3 linked regions of the Homo sapiens genome follow. The protein of the gene in region 2 purifies or fractionates together with the protein of the main gene of each other region. This does not show direct contact. Each region holds a gene or a part of one and is shown on either strand. Other genes may lie near its edges. The genes, in order: IPO11, ADORA3 and IPO9.

Region 1 (3,730 bases), on a different chromosome or scaffold from region 2:
TTTTTTTTCCCAAAAAATTGCAATTTTAAAAGATGATCAAGCACACAGGAAAAAACTGCTCATTAAAGTTGCAAAAACTGGGCCGGGTGCAGTGGCTTACACCTGTAATCCCAGCATTTGGGAGGCTGAGGTGGGCAGATGGCTTGAGCTCAGGAGTTTGAGACCAGCCTGGCCAATATGATAAAACCCTACCAAAACTACACAAAAATAGCTGGGCATGGTGGCACACATCGTGGTCCCAGCTGCTCAGGAGGCAGAGGTGGGAGGATCACTTGAGCCCAGGAAGCAGAGATTGCAGTGGGCCAACATCATGGCACTGCACTCTAGCCTGGGTGACAAAGTGAGACCCCATCTCAAAAATTAAATAACATAAATAAAGTTACAAAAAAAAGTATGTAAGTATTCCCTGCCCCCAAGAAGTTTATAACACACCTAAAGGAATTTAAAAACACAAAGTAGTGTACTAGGACTTTAGAAAAGGAAGAGAAGAAATGGGCAGAGACAGACGGAATCTGAGCAAGTCTTTGAGATAAACAATATTGGAGCCAAAGGGTGGAAAAATGTCATTTCAAGGGACAGAAACTGTTTGAACCAAGTGACAGAGGCAGAAGTAACAACTTGTGTAGAGTGAGGTAAAAGCACCAAAGAACCATCAATTTTGGGACTAAGACCATATTAGACTCTGTTCCAGATAAAGAATATGAAACTCAGAAAGGTAAAATTCCAAACTCATAGACACATCCAAACAGAAGTAAAAGTATAGATCACTTTGCTATTTAATGTGTGCATTGCTTGATTTTTCCCAGACCTACTAAGTCAAAACCTAAACTTTAACAAGATTACCAGGTGACTCATATGTACATTAAAGTTTGAGAAACACTGGTCTACATCAGCTTTGTCCATTAGAAATATAATGCAGGCCACATATGTTATTTTAATTTTTTAGTACCCACATTATAAGAGAAAAGAAACAAAATCTTATTCTTTGGGAGGCCAAGGCGGGCAGATCACGAGGTCAGGAGATCGAGATCATCCTGGCTAACACAGTGAAACCTCGTCTCTACTAAAAAAAAATACAAAAAAATTAGCCGGGCATGGTGGCGGGCACCTGTAGTCCCAGCTACTGGGGAGGCTGAGGCAGGAGAACGGCATGAACCCGGGAGGCAGAGCTTGCAGTGAGTCGAGATCGCGCCACTGCACTACAGCCTGGGCAACAGAGCAAGACTCCATCTCAAAAAAAAAAAAAAAAACTTATTAATATTTTTACATATCCCAATATATCCAAAATATCATTTCAACATGTAATCAATAAATATTTTACATGGCTTTAAATTTTAAATTTAAATTAATTAAAATTGGAAAGTTGTTGCCTCAGTTGCACTAAGCACATTTCAAGTGCTCAATAGCTACACGTAGGGAGCTTCTGCACTGGACAGTGAAGGTCTTACACTAAATAGCCTCTAGGGTTTAAGGACAACTAAACTGCACATTTGTTTCGCCAATGAAAGCTTTCTCTCCATCAAAGGCTCACTAGCTCCCTGAGACTAAGTCAGAGTCTATTTTATTTAACACCGCCTATAGGACATGGCAAATTCCAAGTGTTAAAAATATATGTTAACTGAATAAATGATTGAATAACTGAAGAGATAAACAGCTACTTACTGTTAAGAATTACTTTTAGAGTATCTCCAGCTCTACAAATTCTGTGGCTCTAAATGTGACCTATGCATTCATTAGTTTAGTCAACAAATATTAACTATCTATGACTATATGCTAAGTATTCTGATAGGCCCCAGGTATACTGAAGTGAATCAGTAGAAGTGTATCCTTCAAATTAAGAAAAAAGCCCCTTAGAATTTTTTCAAATTCTCCAATTTTAAACTAAGAAATAATTTTATAAACTATGAAAGAGGTTTTTCCTTTCATTTTATGCATTCAATACCTAAAATTTAAGTAGACAAGTGCTTAAATGTATATAAAACGTAAGAATTGGGCTGGCCAGGTGTGGTGGCATGCGCCTGTAATCCCTGCTACTCAGGAGACTGAGGCACAAGAATCGCTTGGACCTGGGAGGTGGAGGTTGCAGTGAGCTGAGATTGCACCACTGCACTCCAGGCTGGGTGACAAAATGAGACTATTTCAAAAAAAATAGAATTGGGCAAATGTGCTATTAAATGTACTAAATTAATTCATTTCATAATTCATATTACTAAATGTAATATGAATCTGTACTATTTAATTAGGTACCTCAATTAGAACTTAGAAAGGGTATTCAAATATTTTTGCCATGATGTCTCTATATCCTACTCTACCGTCTCCCCAGAGACTTGCAGTATGCATTATGTGATCCCAAGACATTCATCTTTCACAGATGTTACTTTGATTAGGCTACTTCTGACACTAGGCATACATCCTGCTAAGTTTCGAACTGTCTTTTTCTTAGGCATAGTTTCTTGAACTCAGAGACCTCCATCCTCCCTCATCTTTGCATAAAGTCCTCCTTTTCTCCTGCAAACTACCTGATATATCAAATACTTCCTAGATGTCAAAATTCTTATTCCTTTCCACATAAGACATTACCTAACTTATACGATTGCATTTTTTAAATTGTAAGCCATTTTAATGCCTTCCTGTCTTCATTAATAAAATAAATAAGGTAAAGTAAGTGTATAATAAATATAAAATTTTATACTTGCCTATTGTGAATGACTTGTAATTCTGGAAGAAGCTGGTTTTTAAACCACTGATCAAAATCAACACTGTCAAAGAGCTCATAAGCAGCTAATCCAACAGCATTATACACTGAGAAGAAAATTTAAGAAAAAAAATTAAAGGTTTCAGATATCAGATCTGCAAATGAGTGTATGAAACATATGTTAATTAAAGGAAACACACAATATGCTAATCAGGGAAATTATTTAAGTAGAAATAATTTAAGTAGAAGAAATAATTTATTTTAGAAACACTATTTTACTTCATGTTTTTCCTAAATATTCCTTACTACTTTCAAACAGATAATTCAATTCATTCTAAAATATTTAAGTCCAACTATAAAAATTATAAAATAATGCCTGCTTCTAAAATGGATGTAATATTTTATGATCTGGTCCCTACTTAACTCTCTCCAGCCTCAACTCAACCTTTAACCCCAATGTTCCAGTTAAACCAAAATAGTCACAATTCAAATTCTAACTGTGCTTCCTCCTCTTTCCTTCAAGTCTTTGTACTTATTGCTCCATCTCCCTGGAATGCAACACCCTCTTTCCATCACCACCTCCTCACACGTGTAACTCCTACTTATCCTTGTGTTCTTCCATTACACTTCTTTGGGAATCTTTCCTTAGACACACCAAACTATCTGGTGATCATCACCTACTTTAGCATTAACTATCCTGTATAGTATTATTATAATACATTATCTGTTTACTTGGTTATCTCCCCAATCAGATTGTTCCTGTATTTTAGTTACTCTTGTATCTCAACACCCTCAGCACAAAATCTACCACAAAACAGACTCTCCATCTACTGAATAAATAAATGCTTCTAAATCACTTAAGTTTAACATACCAGCATCTTTGATTAACAGTGCATTCATATCTTCCACATTTGTGGGTCCTAAAAAATATATATATAAATAGGTATCAGTAAAAGCAAATAAAACTAGTTTTTTAAAAAATTTATATTTAAACACAATTTGTTAGTTTCCCAATTCAATTAAGTATAACACATT
Region 2 (4,079 bases):
TCTGGGGAGTCTGCTCAGGGAGAAATGACAAGTCTGGCGGGGACAAGTATGGGATTTGGTAAGACTTGGATCAACTTGGGATACAGGGTGGGGGTCGGGAGTGGAATCAATGAATGATGCCAGAGCAGATCAACTAACAAGAGGACCCTGATGAGCCCCAGGCAGAGGCGTCTCCCTTATGCCCCACTCTGAAGTGTTTGTTAGTAAACACCAGAACGCCATTGTTGTTACTGCTGAATTTTATTTTGGGCTGTACATATTTAGATGCTTAAGGTAAAAATGATAAAGCCCTCAAGCCACTGTGTGGGTTTGGGTCCAAGTGTTCCTTCTTGCTGCCTCTCTAACACGCCTGGTTAAAATAATCCCTTTGGATGGTGCTGAGAAGCACCTGAACCAAGTGGGTCCCCAAATAACAATGGCGTGCAAGTGTCTGGTTCCCAGAAGTTGGTGACTAGGTAAGCAGCTTCAGGGAGAGGGGGCTGATTCCCAGACAGTCGCCTGTTCCTGCGGGGATGGGGCTGAGGCTTGGGGAATGTGGGCAGGAGGATATGCCATTTGATTCTGTTGCACACGTTCTTTTCCCTTCTTTCTGTATGTCTGGTCATTCTGCTATTCTGTCGTTCCTCACATAGGTTGGACATTGGCCGGCTGCCAGCATAAGTGCCAGTGTGATTTTGCTAGGGTGTGAGCTGAGAAAGAGAGGTGGAGGCTAAGCAGGTGTGATGCTTCTCAGAGGTGCTGAGTTTTTGCCCTTCTGAGCAGGGAATCTTTGCTTATCCCTTTGACCAAGGATCTTTGCTGCAAAGGCTGGGTATCGGCTGTGCTCAGCAAAGCGTCAACTCGTGCAAGAACTTAGCAGGAATAGTTCTGGCTAAGGTTAGGAGGCTGCCACCAAAGTCTCTTTTTTGTTCCTCTGCTTCTCCCGTTTGCCTCCTTATCATGAGATCTTTTTGCTAAGCTGGCAGAAAGATTGCATAGTCAGTGCTTCCAGCTCTGCTCCCACCTGATCCTGCACTGTCCTCTGGTCCCTGAATGAATGAACTCTGATACCCAATCTTGTCTCGAGCCTTCTCTATGCCACTCATGGCTCCTCTTCTGCTCTTTCCATCTTTTTGCTGAGAGTTCTGAGCTCTGTACTTCCTCTTGGCCCATCTCACTTCCTGAAACACCCCTGAAGAGGGTTGCTTATCTTGATGGAACTCAAAAAGCCAAAAAGCTGCAGGCAGAGGCGTTGAGGACATCTGTTTGGGGAACTAAGAGCAGCAGCACTTTCAGATTCAGTCCATATAGAGCTGTCCTACAGCATTCTGGAAACTTGAGGATGTGCGGTGCATAAAGGGGCTGGAAGTGACCCACCTGTGATGAGCCCTTTCTAAGGAGAAGGGTTTCCAAGAGATCACCCCACCAGAAAAGGGTAGGAATGAGCAAGTTGGGAATTTTAGACTGTCACTGCACATGGACCTCTGGGAAGACGTCTGGCGAGAGCTAGGCCCACTGGCCCTACAGACGGATCTTGCTGGCTCACCTGTCCCTGTGGAGGTTCCCCTGGGAAGGCAAGATGCCCAACAACAGCACTGCTCTGTCATTGGCCAATGTTACCTACATCACCATGGAAATTTTCATTGGACTCTGCGCCATAGTGGGCAACGTGCTGGTCATCTGCGTGGTCAAGCTGAACCCCAGCCTGCAGACCACCACCTTCTATTTCATTGTCTCTCTAGCCCTGGCTGACATTGCTGTTGGGGTGCTGGTCATGCCTTTGGCCATTGTTGTCAGCCTGGGCATCACAATCCACTTCTACAGCTGCCTTTTTATGACTTGCCTACTGCTTATCTTTACCCACGCCTCCATCATGTCCTTGCTGGCCATCGCTGTGGACCGATACTTGCGGGTCAAGCTTACCGTCAGGTAGCCTGCGGCGTGGGGTGGGCAGCAATTGAGGCAGCTGGGAAATGAGGCTACAAAGCCCAGAGCCCAGACTTTTTGAGTAAAAATGTATCCAAATTGGCCCTTGATGTTGAAAGAGGGCAATAAGTGTCTTTTTGTGATATGGTCTGTGAGGGGGTTAGCAACAATGGGCTGGGACTCAGGAGCTAGAATCAGAGGAATGCTCCAATCCTTTCTCCACTGACTAGGGGTGGGTGCTCAATCCCTCCAGCTGTAATTACTAATCCTTGGCTAAAAATGATGAAATCTTGATGCATCTTTAATTAGTAAAAAATGCTCTTCAGTTTTAGAAATGATAAAAGCCTACTAGATAAGACTTATTATTTTAGGAGAAGCAGGCAGATAAACATAAGAGGAGATAAACTGATGGTTCTGTTGTTTTGCAAATGTAGGTTATTATTTTATCTTTGCTTCCTATTCTGTGCCTACTTCAATGTTGAGAAAGGGATTCTTGGAATATATATATATTCCAATATATATATATTTATTATAATAAATATATGTATCCTATATATATTCATTATAATAAATATATGTATCCTATATATATTCACTATAATAAATATATGTATCCTATATATATTCATTATAATAAATATATGTATCCTATATATATTCATTATAATAAATATATGTATCCTATATATATTCATTATAATGAATATATATCCTATATATTTATTATAATGAATATATATCCTATATATTTATTATAATAAATATATCCTATATATTCATTATAATAAATATATATCCTATATATTTATTATAATATATATATCCTATATATTTATTATAATAAATATATATCCTATATATTTATTATATTAAATATATATCCTATATATTTATTATATTAAATATATATCTCCTATATATATTTATTATAATATATATATCCTATATATTTATTATATTAAATATATATCCTATATATAATATAATAAATATATATATCCTATATATATGTATATTTTTCCTCCTCCTCCTGAGATGTGAGAGCTTTTTTCGTAAAAATATTCTTCATTACATGTGACCATATGAATAGAACGAACTGCCAAATGGAGAAATCTACTTCCCCGGGTGACCTAAATTGCATTGGTCTCGTGTTTCTCGTCACTTCTCTGGAGGAAAGAGCAGAGTGAGGGAGCTACAAACAAGCTTTAGATGTAGACAGTCTAGGTTCAAATCCCAGATTAGAGATCTGATCTTGAACAAGTTGTTTAACTTTATCTCCTTTGGTTTCCACTCTGTATCACAGTGGTTACGATGCTCGGAACTCAGACTTACCTTGTTTTAGTTTTAGCCCCACCACTTCTAACTTGTAGAAGTTACTTGTTTGTGTTTCACTTTTTAATCTACAAAATGGGGATAATTGCACTATCCTCATAAAATGAAATGCGTTAACATATGTAAAGCTTTTAGAAACATACCTGTCACACAGTCTGTGCTCAATAAATGGTGGCTATCATTACTATTATTTTCACAATTGCCATCAATAAAATTGAGGTTATAATAAAATATCTCCTGTTTGTTGTGAGATTTAATTGAGATAAAAATCTACTGATACTTAACTATATTTGTTTCCTTTTTGTGGTCTGTATAGGCTGCTGTCAGGAAGGACAGTTTAAGGAGCAATGGGGACTCTTACTCTTACTGTCCTTTAAGGTCTCTGAAACACTTCAATACAATTTTGTAACTTCATTGATTCATTTAACTCAAATACCAAGTATGGATGCCCATGAAGATAGAGAAGCAGGAGCAGGCACAGGTAGAGGGGAAGTGTCGGGGAGGCATAGTATAATTTATGAGAATCTGCACAACAGCCAAACAGAACAGTGCCAAGAACAGCAGGCAAGCTTGCTTTGAGAATATCATTTCTCACCAGGCAGACAATCCTAGGAGACTTAGATGAATCTCAGCTCCCAGGAACTGAATAATTCTTAGGCTTACACCTTATTGGGAACAGAAGGAGTAAACTGAGTTCAAGGGGGACTTAAACTGCTGAATTCACCTGTGGATGTTTTTGAGTTAAAAAAAAAAAGAAAAAGAAAAGATAGGTAACAGTTGTATAGCTCTCAGTAAGTGGAGCCCTGAGTGGAGCACGTAAGCACTTGACTCTAGGCAACATC
Region 3 (3,730 bases), about 90 Mb from region 2:
CCAGAATGGCGGAGAGTGCTTGCGGGCCTATGTGTCAGTGACCCTGGAACAAGTAGCCCAGTGGCATGATGAGCAGGGCCACAATGGACTGTGGTATGTGATGCAAGTGGTGAGCCAGCTCCTGGACCCCCGCACCTCAGAGTTCACTGCGGCCTTTGTGGGCCGCCTTGTTTCCACCCTCATCTCCAAGGCAGGGCGGGAACTCGGGGAGAATCTAGACCAGATTCTTCGTGCCATCCTCAGTAAGATGCAGCAGGCAGAGACGCTCAGTGTCATGCAGGTAAGAGAGCAGTGGGGAGTGGGCTTCCTACTCCCTGGCTGATAGAAATGAAAATTCGTATTTTGGTCCTGAGTTATTTTATTTTACCCTCTTACTAGCCTTGTAGGACAGTTAAGTAAAATGGGACCTGTCTGATCTGTTTGGCCTAAGAAACATGGACAAGGAAATCTCCCATGTTTTCTTGTCCTGTGGATAATACCCTCAGTGTAGACTGTATTTCTTATCTGACTGGCCAGTTCCCTCTCATCTCCTATGTCTCTGAAATTGATTTCCCTGAAGCAAATGTCCTTATTTTCTCCTAGTCCCTGATCATGGTGTTCGCTCATCTGGTGCACACTCAGCTAGAACCTCTCTTGGAGTTCCTGTGTAGCCTCCCAGGACCTACTGGCAAACCTGCTCTAGAGTTTGTGATGGCTGAGTGGACAAGCCGACAGCACCTGTTCTATGGACAGTATGAAGGCAAAGTCAGGTAGAACCTCATCTTTCTTTTCTGGGCATTCTGCCACCACTCATATTTCTTTTTTTTTTTTTTTTTTTTTTTTTTTTTTGAGACAGTCTCGCTCTGTCGCCCAGGCTGGAGTGCAGTGGCACAATCTTGGCTCACTGCAACCTCCACCTCCTAGGTTCAAGCAATTCTCCTGCTCCTGCCTCAGCCGTCCGAATATTACACACATGCACCACCATACCCAGTGAATTCTTTGTGTGTGTGTTTTTAGTAGAGAGAGGGTTTCACCATGTTGGCCAGGCTGGTCTTGAACTCCTGACCTCAAGTGATCCACCCACTTCGGCCTCCCACAGTGCTGGGATTACAGGTGTGAGCCACTGCTCCTGACACATATTTCTTTTTTTTCCTGATTTGCTCCATTGATTTTTGTTTGACATTTCAAATGGCTCTCTGTATTCCCTTTTCCCTGTCTTTCTTTATTGCTAACGCACATATGTGAATAGCTGCCATCTTGAAATCCCCAAAAGACAGTCAACACAGGTAGACTATATATTTCTGGTCTCTGTTTACAAGAGATCCCTTCTCTACCACAGACTTCACACAGCTAAGTGCTGCTAGTGGCTTATTTTCCTTTATAAGCCCAAGCCTTGGCCAGGCACAGTGGCTCACACCTATAATCCCAGCACTTTAGGAGGCTGAGGCGAGCAGATCACCGGAGGTCAGGAGTTCAAGACCAGCCTGGCAAACATGGTGAAACACTGTCTCTACTATAAATACAAAAAATAGCTGGATGTGGTTGTGGGTGCCTGTAATCCCAGCTACTCGGGAGGCTAAGGCAGGAGAATCGCTTGAACCAAGGAGGCAGATCACGCCATTGCACTTCAGCCTGGGCGACGAGCGAAATTGTCTCAGAAAAATAAAAATAAAAAACCCAACCTTCTAACCCTGGCTTCCTAACTTTTTATCCTGGATTTTTATACCACTGATTCTTATCACCTCGTTGCACCTTACAATATGGTGCAACCTTAGCTTTGTTCAAGAAGAACAGGTCACCTGTAATCCCGGCACTTTGGAAGACTGAGGTGGGCGAATTGCTTGAGACCCACCCGGGCAACATGGTGAAACCTGTGTCTACCAAAAAAATACAAAAATTAGCCAGGCACGGTGGCGCATGCCTATAGTCCCAGCTACTTGGGAGGCTGAGGTGGGAGGATCACCTGAACCCAGGGAGGTCAAGGCTGCAGTGAACCATGATCACACCACTGCACTCAGCCTGGGTGACAGAATGAGACCCTATCTCAAAAACAACAACAACAACAACAACAACAAAAAAGCACAGATCTCATTAAACCACCTCATGAACTCTAAAATCTCATTTTCAGCTGAACTCTCTTAGCTCTCCTAATTAGTTGTTAACGGAATTTTCACTATCAAATAGAGGGTCTTAGGACATAATTGCTTATCTCCTTGGAGTGAACTCGAGATGGGCGGCTGATTGACCTTTTTTTGGATCTTCCTTGCCAGCTCTGTGGCACTCTGTAAGCTGCTCCAGCATGGCATCAATGCAGATGACAAACGGCTACAGGATATCCGTGTGAAGGGAGAGGAGATCTACAGCATGGATGAGGGCATCCGCACCCGCTCTAAGTCAGCCAAAAGTGGGTGCTGCTGCGATTCTTCCAATCCTCTCCCTATACGAAGGGGCTAAGGATACCTGGGTGAAGGGAAGGAATGCACTGTGGTGTATATTTTTAAAACAATTGTTGGTGATGGGTTTGATAAAGAAGAAGCAGGAAACTTAGGTAAAAGGGATCAGAACATACGGTTTCTTCCTGTTGTGGAAAATGGACAAAAATAGGCCGGGCATGGTGGCTCACGCCTGTAATCCCAGCACTTGGTGGGAGGCCAGAGCGGATGGATCACTTGAAGTCAGGAGTTTGAGACTAGCCTGACCAACATGGTGAAATCCCGTCTTTACTAAAAATACAAAAATTAGCCAGGCATGGTGGTGGGCGCCTGTAATCCCAGCTACTTGGGAGGCTGAGGCAGGAGAATCGCTTGAACCTGGGAGGCAGAGGTTGCGGTGAGCAAAGATCGTGCCACTGCATTCCAGCCTGGACAACAAAATGAGACTCCGTCTCAAAAAAAAAAAAAAAAAAAAAATGCAGGCGTGGTGGCTCACACCTGTAATCCCAGCACTTTGGGAGGCCGAGGTGGGTGGATCGCCTGAGGCCGGGAGTTCGAGACCAGCCTGACCAACATAGAGAAACCCCGTCTCTACCAAAAATACAAAGTTAGCCAGGCATGGTGGCGCATGCCTGTAATCCCAGCTACTCGGGAGGCTGAGGCAGGAGAATCGCTTGAACCCGGGAGGTGGAGGTTGCAGTGAGCCAAGATCACGCCATTGCACTCCAGCCTGGGCAATAAGAGCAAAACTCTGTCTGAAGAAAAAAAAAAGACAAAAATAGTCTCAGGCACCAAGCATCCCAGCTTCCAGCTTCATTCAGAAGCGTGGGCACAGATAGTCAGCATGTCTTTGTTACTGAGTTGCCTTTGGCCTGTAACTCCAATGATTTGCAGGTAGGGAGTATAGAGCTGCTATCTTTAATGTAGATTTATAATTACCTCCGCTGTCTCTCAAATTCTAAGTCATTGGGACTGGAGTACTGGCTCTATACAGTTCCTTGGTTTCAGAGCTTTATTACTAACAAGACTGTATCTCCTTTAATCCCTGAACTCTCATCTCTCCCAGCTTCTGAACTGTTACAATACCAAACAATAAAGTTATTTAACTTTAAGTCACTCTTTGGAGACTGGATATAGTCAGGTACAGTGAAAGTCTGAGGGGTGGTGAACTCTGGTGAGTGGCACTGAGGAGAGGACAGGGGTACTTCCAGAAGTAAGCTCAGTGACACTCTGACTTGAAACCTTTTTCTTCCTTCCCAGACCCAGAACGCTGGACAAACATTCCTTTGCTGGTCAAGATCCTAAAGCTGATCATCAAC

What was found.
Region 1: the proteins of ADORA3 (region 2) and IPO11 purify together in Homo sapiens (affinity purification with mass spectrometry, with the first as the bait; 2 studies listed by BioGRID). This does not show direct contact.
Region 3: the proteins of ADORA3 (region 2) and IPO9 purify together in Homo sapiens (affinity purification with mass spectrometry, with the first as the bait; 2 studies listed by BioGRID). This does not show direct contact.

Annotation. Positions count from the first base shown.
Region 1 is NC_000005.10:62,489,187-62,492,916, reverse strand, and holds part of IPO11 (importin-11), read right to left. Parts: intron 3,616-3,730; coding exon 3,568-3,615; intron 2,803-3,567; coding exon 2,697-2,802; intron 1-2,696. UniProt on the Homo sapiens protein: Functions in nuclear protein import as nuclear transport receptor. Serves as receptor for nuclear localization signals (NLS) in cargo substrates.
Region 2 is NC_000001.11:111,500,834-111,504,912, reverse strand, and holds the start of ADORA3 (adenosine receptor A3), read left to right. Parts: upstream 1-1,279; 5' UTR 1,280-1,558; coding exon 1,559-1,908; intron 1,909-4,079. Other genes in the region: TMIGD3 (transmembrane and immunoglobulin domain containing 3), read left to right, coding at 1,559-1,908.
Region 3 is NC_000001.11:201,870,579-201,874,308, forward strand, and holds part of IPO9 (importin-9), read left to right. Parts: intron 1-4; coding exon 5-280; intron 281-582; coding exon 583-749; intron 750-2,249; coding exon 2,250-2,383; intron 2,384-3,671; coding exon 3,672-3,730. UniProt on the Homo sapiens protein: Nuclear transport receptor that mediates nuclear import of proteins, such as histones, proteasome and actin. Serves as receptor for nuclear localization signals (NLS) in cargo substrates.